Regions from separate parts of the Homo sapiens genome. Here region 1 is linked to region 2. The links come from fine-mapping of genetic effects on gene expression. A gene starts in region 2. The other region holds a variant in brackets. All regions are shown on one strand. Distances are between the middles of the regions.

Region 1 (4,392 bases), 55 kb before region 2:
GTTCCCTCCCCCACCCCCACCACTTTGCTTTTGGAGGCAAAGGAAAGGCACCCTCCTGGCTAGCAGGCCAGATGAGCCTTGTCACCTGGGGGATAGGATGCGACCCAGATCTGCTCCTGAGCACAAAGATGAGCAAAATCAAAGGAAATTGCATGAGACTGAAGACCTTCTGTGTGGTCCTCCTGGGAGTGGCAGAAGTTTCTGGTGGAGGCGCAAAACAGGCCCCTGCTACACATAACTTCCATAACCACCAATCCACAGGCAATCCACCCACCCACACCACATCCCAGGCCTCTCCTTTCCGTGCCTGACCTGTGCTCCCGTGGCCTGCATGGGTGTGAGTCGCCTCTTTCTCCACTGCAGGCCTCTTCCAGGATGTCCTGGTGAAGAACACCACTGCCTGTCCAATTATACTAGTCAGAACCCTGGGAGTGTCTCTTGACACTCCTTCTCATCGTCCGCCAAACCCAGCCCATCCCCAAAGCCTGTTGATTGTATTTCCTGCTTGTCACACAAATGCCACCAGCTTTGATGGGCACCTTGTTCCTCCCCTTTGTGGTACTTGTCACAGTTGCAATTTGCCTGTGAGCTCCGCAGAAGACAGATGCCACGGCTGCTTATTCCTTGTCGTGTCCCTGGTTCCTAAAACAGTGCCTCGTGCATCACTGGTGTTCAATAAATACTTGCCAAATCATTGAATAAATAAGCAAATGAATGAAGGAATGCAGTTTTGAGTGAGGATGGTGTTGAAAAGGAATAAAGCCTTCCCCAGTAGTGCCTGAGGTCCATGTAAGAATGTCCTAGATGATAAGACAGGAGACACACGGGCGTGGTAGATGGGCTCTCCCCACCCCTCCCCATAAGAGTGCAAAGCTGGGACAAGCCAGAGGCTTCACAGGCCTGGTAACTGGGGGGTAGGGTTTGGTGATTCCTACCCAGGGCTGGGGGCATCGGGAGGCTCTTCCTCTCTACCTGGACTGTGTTTACCAGGTGTGTTTCCCATTCATTATTTTCCAGTGGGTACTGGGTTCAAAGTTTCTATAAGCAGTGGGGGCTTTGAGGTTCGAGGAAAGTGTAGTATAGCTTTCTCTTCCTTTTAGGAAGATTTCTGTTTTTCTTTTTCTTTTTTTTTTTTTTTTTTTGAGACAGAGTCTTGCTCTGTCACCCCAGCTGGAGTGCAGTGGCATGATCGAGGCTCACTCCAACCTCCGCCTCCCAGGTTCAAGTGATTCTTGTGCCTCAGACTCCTGAGTAGCTGGGATTACAGACATGAGCCTCTGCACCCGTCCTAGGAAGATTTCAAAACGAAGATGAGTCTATTGTAATTTAGAGGGCCATTTTAAACTCCCTGTGTTGGTGGCAGATGGTTTGGGTCTGGCAGCTAGCTCTATCCCAACCTTCTCTATCCACCCTGCAACTCCCTCCCCTCCCCCTCACATTTTATTTTGAAATTTTCAAACATTCTGAAAAGTTCAAAGAAGAGTACAATGAACTTACCCTGGATTCTCCAACTGTTAACATTTTGCCACAATTGCTTTGTCTCTGTTGGTCTCTCTCTGTCTTTGTATATTTCCACATACTTTTATTTTGCTGAGCAATTTGAAAGCAAGTTGCTGACATCTTGACACTTCACTTCTAGATATCTCAGCATCTCCTAATAAGGATATTCTCCCACAAAACCACAATACCATGATCACAACCATAATAGCACCCAGTGTACTATCTGTATTCAAATCTCTACAGTTG[T/C]CCCCGGAAGAGCTTTTAATGCTGGATTTTTTTTTCCTATCCAGGATCCAATCAAGATCATGTATGATATTTGGTTGTTATGGCTCTTCAGTCTCTTTTCATCTGAAACAGTCTTTCACCTTTTTATTGTTGTTGTTGTTCTTTGTTTATGTGAAATTAGTTTTTGATAAAGAGTCCAGGACAGTTGTCTTGTAGAGTGTCCCATATGTGGGTTAATCTGATTGCTTACACAAGATTAGATGCAGGTTGAATATCTTTGGCCAGAGTTCTGTACTGCATAGGTGCCACTGTAGACTTCTCAGTCAAGTATCACATCTGGAGTAAATAATGTCAATATCACATCTGGAGTAAATAATGTCAGGCATCACAACTGGAGTAAATAATGTCAGTATCACATCTGGAGTAAATAATGTCAGTATCACATCTGGAGTAAATAATGTCAGTATCATATCTGGAGTAAATAATGTCAGTTATCACATCTGGAGTAAATAATGTCAGGCATCACATCTGGAGTAAATAATGTCAGGCATCACATCTGGAGTAAATAATGTCAGGCATCACATCTGGAGTAAATAATGTCAATATCACATCTGGAGTAAATAATGTCAGTTATCACATCTGGAGTAAATAATGTCAGTTATCACATCTGGAGTAAATAATGTCAGTTATCACATCTGGAGTAAATAATGTCAGGTATCACATCTGGAGTAAATAATGTCAGTATCACATCTGGAGTAAATAATGTCAGTATCACATCTGGAGTAAATAATGTCAGTATCACATCTGGAGTAAATAATGTCAGGCATCACATCTGGAGTAAATAATGTCAGGTATCACATCTGGAGTAAATAATGTCAGTATCACATCTGGAGTAAATAATGTCAATATCACATCTGGAGTAAATAATGTCAGGTATCACATCTGCAGTAAATAATGTCAGTATCACACCTGGAGTAAATAATGTCAGGCATTACATCTGGAATAAATAATGTCAGTATCACATCTGCAGTAAATAATGTCAGTTATCACATCTGGAGTAAATAATGTCAGGCATCACATCTGGAGTAAATAATGTCAGTATCACATCTGGAGTAAATAATGTCAGGTATCACATCTGCAGTAAAAAACATCAGTATCACATCTGGAGTAAATAACATCAGGTATCACATCGGGAGTAAATAATGTCAGTATCGCAACTGGAGTAAATAATGTCAGGCATCACATCTGGAGTTAATAATGTCAGGCATCACATCTGGAGTAAATAATGTCAGTATCACTTCTGCAGTAAGTAATGTCAGGTATCACATCTGGAGTAAATAATGTCAGGTATCACATCTGGAGTACATAATGTCAGTATCACATCTGGAGTAAATAATGTCAGGTATCACATCTGGAGTAAATAATGTCAGGCATCACATCTGGAGTACATAATGTCAGCCACTCTTGGTCATTCTGAGTTTGATCACTAATCCTCACTCTGCTTCCCCTTTTGTAAGTAATTTTTAGAATCTTCACATGGTCACAGGATTAACTGAATATCCAAGTCACCAAACAGTTTTGGCAACTCTTGGTGATGCTTACCTGAAGGAAGCATTACATTGGAGGTTGGAAAATGGTAGTTTTTCATTCTTTTATTCCTGCTACATTTACTAGCTGGCCTTTTTTTCTGTAAGAATTTCCAAATCCCACTATATTAAAAACATTAATCACTGTGGGTTCGTGGAGTTTTAAAAATGCTATAATTGAAACTACAGTTATTCATTTTGATGTTCAAATCATCCCACATTTGAGCAGTGGGAGCCCTCAGGTCAGCTCCTGAATCCTTTTGACATGATCACATTTATCTTCCAAAACTGTTTTGCTTTCTGGTGTGACAAGAGATTCCATGCTCACGTTGTACATTTTCACCCCTGACCTAGAATCTACCATTTCTCTAACGAGCCCTGGTGCCTTTAGTGGTGAATGGTATAGAGAAAGAAAGAACCTGGTGATATATGCGATCATTGCTACTCGGCTGTCATTCAGTGGACAGGATTAGAAAACTCATTTTAAAAAAAATTACAAGTTCAAACTGATATATTTCCTACTCAAATTTAACATTACAGTTTTTCTTTCACTTCTTTACTGACTACTAGTATCTTTTTTCCCCGTCAGTAAAATATATATTTGCTTATTTGCTTTCCACTATACATGCACAAAAGAGTTTCAGAATTACAAGACCAATATTACTGCTAACAGTAAACATACTAAATAGAAGTTTTTCTATAGTTCTTCTGTTCTTAGAACAGATCCTTCTCCACAATCAGAGTGTTTGCTCTGTGTGGTTGTGGTATCAGTTTGAGGCGTTATCAGTTTGATTTCCTTCTTTTGCATTCTATTGTAGGGTATTCTTTATCCCACCTTTTTAACATTTAATTTTATTTTTAAAATACGTGAAACATTTATGTAGTTAAAAAGTAAAAATGGGTTGAGAATAGTGGCTCACACCTGTAATCCCAGCACTTTGGGAGGCCGAGGTGGGAGAATTGCTTGAGCCCAGGAGTTTGAGACCAGCCTGGGCAACGTAGGAAGACCTCATTTCTACAAAAATAAATAAATAAATAAATAAATGAATAAATAAATAAATAAATAGCTGGGTACGGTGGC
Region 2 (4,392 bases):
GTAGGTGAGAGCTGGATTTAGGAGTGGGACAGATATTTTCCTATATGTGTTTACATATGTATTTGAATCATGTGCATGTTTTCAAAAATTTAAAAATTTAAAAATTTTAATATTGCAACAGCAATAAAGTAGAAATATTCATTTCTTAAAAGAAGGTAGCCAGGGCCGGGAGCGGTGGCTCACATCTGTAATCCTAACACTTTGGGAGGCCGAGGTGGGTGAATCACGAGGTCGGGAGTTCAAGACCAGCCTGACCAACATGGTGAAACCTTGTCTCTACTAAAAATACGAAAAAAGTTAGTCGGGCCTGGTGGCACAAGCCTGTAATCCCAGCTACTCAGGAGGCTGAGGCAGGAGAATCACTTGAACCCGGGAAGTGGAGGTTGCAGTGAGCCAAGATAGTGCCACTGCACTGCAGCCTGGGCAACAGAGCGAGACTCTGTATCAAAAAAAAAAAAAAAAAAAAAAAAAGAAGGTAGCCAGAATGGGAGTAGACAAGGCTCCCTTTGAGAAGGGGCTGAGCAGAGACACTGCTCCCTGCAGGCCACTCAGTGTGGATGCCTTCCTGGGGCCTCACATTGCAGGCTCTGGGTATGGAGGTGGGTGCCAGACACCGGTGTGTTTCCTCCCTGCTACTGTCCCAGCAGGCTCCTGGCCTCCTCCCGCACCCAGGGTGCGGGCCTGGCTGCCCCCCCTTGCCCAGTAGCCAGCCTTTGGCTTAGATTGGGCTGGTGGCCCAGTAGGGGGGCCTCGCTGGGGGCAGGACTGCCCTGTGCCCTGTCTTGGCACCCAGGCCAGCTTGGGGCTCCACGGCCTGGAGCAGGCAGTGGACTTGGCACTGCCCATCGCACAAGCCCAGGTGAGAGCTTAAAAGTTGTCATGGTTCCATCAACCTCTTCACCAGACAGTGGGAAGACCCAGCTCCAGAGGGCCAGGTGGTTCCCCTGCAGTGACTTGCAAGGTGTTATTTACAGAGGGGACCCATGTGTTGGATGAATCATCCAAAAAACCCAGGAGTAGTTTCTATTCCTGTAGACACCTGAAAGTCCCAGCACGCATAGCTTTTAAAAATTGCTTGTGTTTGGTCCTCCGACAGGGCCTCCCAGCACCTCCAGGGCATGAGAGCTGCATCTGCCGGGGTAGTTTCAGCCCAGACTTTCCTGATGGGCTGGAATCTATGAGGGCTCCCAGCTAAGAGCCACCCAGGCCCACGGGTGAGTCTCAGCCCTCCCAGCCCTGAAGGTGGGAGATGCCAGGGAAATCTCTGCTTGCAGGGCCCTAGGAAGCCACAGGCCCAAGGCTGCCCCAAATCTCTGTGCAGGCCTGGGACAGAGAAGCCGAGGCTGGGGAACCTGTGGGGCCCCACTGACCATTCTTGCAGACACACATGCAGTGGCTGAGGTCTCCTCCGACGCTAGGCACGCAAGTCCTAACCTGCAAGTACTAAATAGCACCACCTTCCTTTCCTTTCTGTGGGCAGCAGTTTCAAATCCTAAACCCCCAAAGTGCTGGAAGCCACGACGGCCCTTGGCAGGTGCTGAGAATGGCTGCCCCTGTGTGGTGCCCCTGTTAGGGTGTCTGGGGTGCGTAGGAGGCTTCCTCCTCCAGAGGCTTCCCAGGGCTTGACACATGCAGTGTGATTTTTGGCTTTTTGGTTTTTTGTTTTGTTTTTTGGAGCTGCGGGAGGGGGGCGTGCAGATCTTCCAAGAGGGCGGGAGAGTGTAGACCCTCCTCCTGGAAACTGCTCCCCATGTCCACACTCTAGTTCCACACAGCCTCTCTGTAGACCCCAGAGCAAGAGCCCCTAAGCCAGACAGGGTGACACTGGAGCGGCTCAAAGAGCATCTGGTCCCACCCCTTTATTTCACTCACAAGGAAGTCGAGACCCAGAGAGGGGAAGTGACTCTCCCCAGAACAGGCTGACAGCCAGGCCTGGAGGAGAAATGACATCTCTCAGCCCTCTCAGCTGCACCGGACCACCAACAGGTAACAGCCTCTGGGCCATTTAGAGAAACTAAGGCACGGAGCCTCCAACCTGACCTTGCTCTTGTGGACTGCAGGTAACTCTCCTAAGATCAGTGGGGCTTGTGTGGGCCTGGGCTTTGTGCACACCTGTCCCAACTCAGCGAGCAGTCCCAGGTGTCAGGGCAGCGGCAGCCTCCAGGCAGCCTCCGTGACAGCAGCAGCGGCAGGCAGACCTGGTTTGTCCCCGATTACGAGTGACATTTTTCTACGAACCCTCAACTTCCTCCTGATCTGACTCAGGGTTGCAGCATCATGTCGGGTCGGGAAACCTCCCCATAGGCAGCCTGGGAGCCTTCCCGGGGCATGTAGCTCACGTGCCACCGCCCTCCACCAAGCCCGCCGCCCATTCCCCAGAATCTTGTTGGGAAACCACCAAGCGCCCGAGATGACACACTCTCAGGGATCATCCTGCAGCCCTGAGCAAGTGCTTACTGGGGACCAGAAGGAGCCTGGGAGCCCAGGCTCACCCACTCACCAGCTGCGTAATTTCTCTAGCCTCCGTTTACCTCTCTGGGGCATGAGGCAATACACGGTTTCTTCCTCACGGGGCGCTCAAGGGCAGTAAATGATGGAGAGGAAAGCCCTGGTTGCTATCCTACATTATAGCTGCATTGTTCTCTAACCCTAGCCAAGTGTCTCTTGGAGAGGCTGGGCGGGAAGACACAGCAGCACTTAGAACCCTGAACATTCTAGATTCTTCCCTGAGAGTGAGAACACAAAGTCAGGACATGTCTGGCTGGCCTGGCTTCACCTGGGCTTTGTGCTGCCCGAGGCAGTGGGGATGAGAGGACAGGGCAGGGCAAAGTGCCGCCCACAGCTCTGTGGAAGGCAAGGTTTGCCTTTGGTTCTGAGCGGCTGTCCCAGCTGTAAAGGGAGCACCAGTCACTGTGGAGCTGCAGCAGACCTGGCCATTTGTTCCGTCATTTCTTCACCCCCTCTTTCATGCAATAAGACCTTCCCAACGACAAACTGTATGTGAGGCTCGGTGATAAAGGTGAAAGGGACATGGTCCTGGTCCTGGGGTTGCTGGAGGACAGCAGGGACACGCTCCCCCTGGGATACACAGAGGACTTTTCAAGGCACCCACTCAGGACTGCACTGGGAAAACCACATCAGATGATGTGGGTGAACCTGGGAAGTGGGCATTTCAAGGAAGAGGTGGGATTTTTAGCAGTGGAGGAGAGAGTCCAAGGAGAAAGAGGAGCATGAGCATGCAAAGAAGTGAGGAGGGGGCTTGGCAACTCCTGGATCCCAGATGCTCTTGCTTGTGATGCTGATGGGGGCCAGGGTGAGCGAGGAGGAGAGACTCAGAACATGAGTTCCAGCTGGTCCCTCACGGCCTTTTTGACCTTGGGTAGAATCTTTAACATCTCTAAGCCTTACTGTCCTTATCTGTAAAATGGGCATAATTAGGGCAATCTCCTAGGAGTGTCCTGAGTTCCCATCGTAGATCACTGAGCACACTGCTGGCCACCTTTCACGTCCCCAAGCCGGCCCCTCCCCTCTCCCAGCCCCACTCCAACCCCCCAGCCCAAGCTCCAGCAACATTCAGGCATTGGGGAGATTGTGGTCATGTGCTCTGTCCCCTCTGTGTCCTGTTCCTTCTTCTATCGTGGCCCCCAGAAGCCCAGCTCAGGCACAGGCGGATGACTTTATTCACACTATGGTGTTACTGGTGGATACGCTGTGTATTCTAACTGCGGCATTTTTGGGGGAGTATTCCAGGGCTCCTCAAATCCATCCCTGCGGCTGTGCCAATGCTGCTTTTTTAGGCTCTGGCCCTGCCATCTCTGAGGTGGCTCACGCTGCAATGCTCTGTGCAGATAACAGCCTGGCAGCTGCAGGAAGGGCCACCTTCTCAGTTGCAACCCTCCTTAGGGTTGTGATCTTCTTGTTGCTTGTGTTCTCTGGAAAGTCCAGGCCACAGAGGGAAGAAAGGTAGGTCTGGTGTGGAGCCACATAGCTGGGTTTCGAGGTCTCAGCTGTGCAGGCAAAGCCACAGGGCTGCCGCAAGTGGGACACTGGATCCTTGAGGGTGTGGGCGGATGAGGGTACCATGGACCACTGGCAGTTGCGGGAATCCCAGCTGCAGAATGTGTAGAGTCAGCAATTAAGAACCAGCACAGGCCGGGTGCTCGGGCTCACGCCTGTAATCCCAGCAGTTTGGGAGGCAGAGGCAAGAGGATTGCTCGATCCCAGAAATTTGAGGCCAGCCTGGGCAACACAGTAAGACCTTGTCTCTACAAAAAATAAAAAATTAGGCCAGGAGCGATGGCTCACACCCGTAATCCCAGCACTTTGGGAGGCAGGTGGATCACCTGAGGTCGGGAGTTCGAGACCAGCCTGACCAACATAGAGAAACGCTGT

What was found.
Region 1: its variant is fine-mapped to the expression of GPR55 in whole blood (TOPMed, PIP above 0.99).

Annotation. Positions count from the first base shown.
Region 1 is chr2:230,977,961-230,982,352 of GRCh38, reverse strand. No RefSeq gene overlaps it. Among named protein-coding and RNA genes, the nearest start is that of SPATA3-AS1, 16 kb to the left of the region's middle. RefSeq lists an enhancer at 464-603. The variant T/C (reference allele first, on the strand shown) is at 1,747.
Region 2 is chr2:230,922,762-230,927,153 of GRCh38, reverse strand. It overlaps GPR55 (G protein-coupled receptor 55), which reads left to right and starts at 1,912. Exons shown (of 2, transcript NM_005683.4): 1 at 1,912-1,986. RefSeq lists a silencer at 476-655 and enhancers at 876-1,105, 1,926-1,975, 2,096-2,215, 1,779-2,567.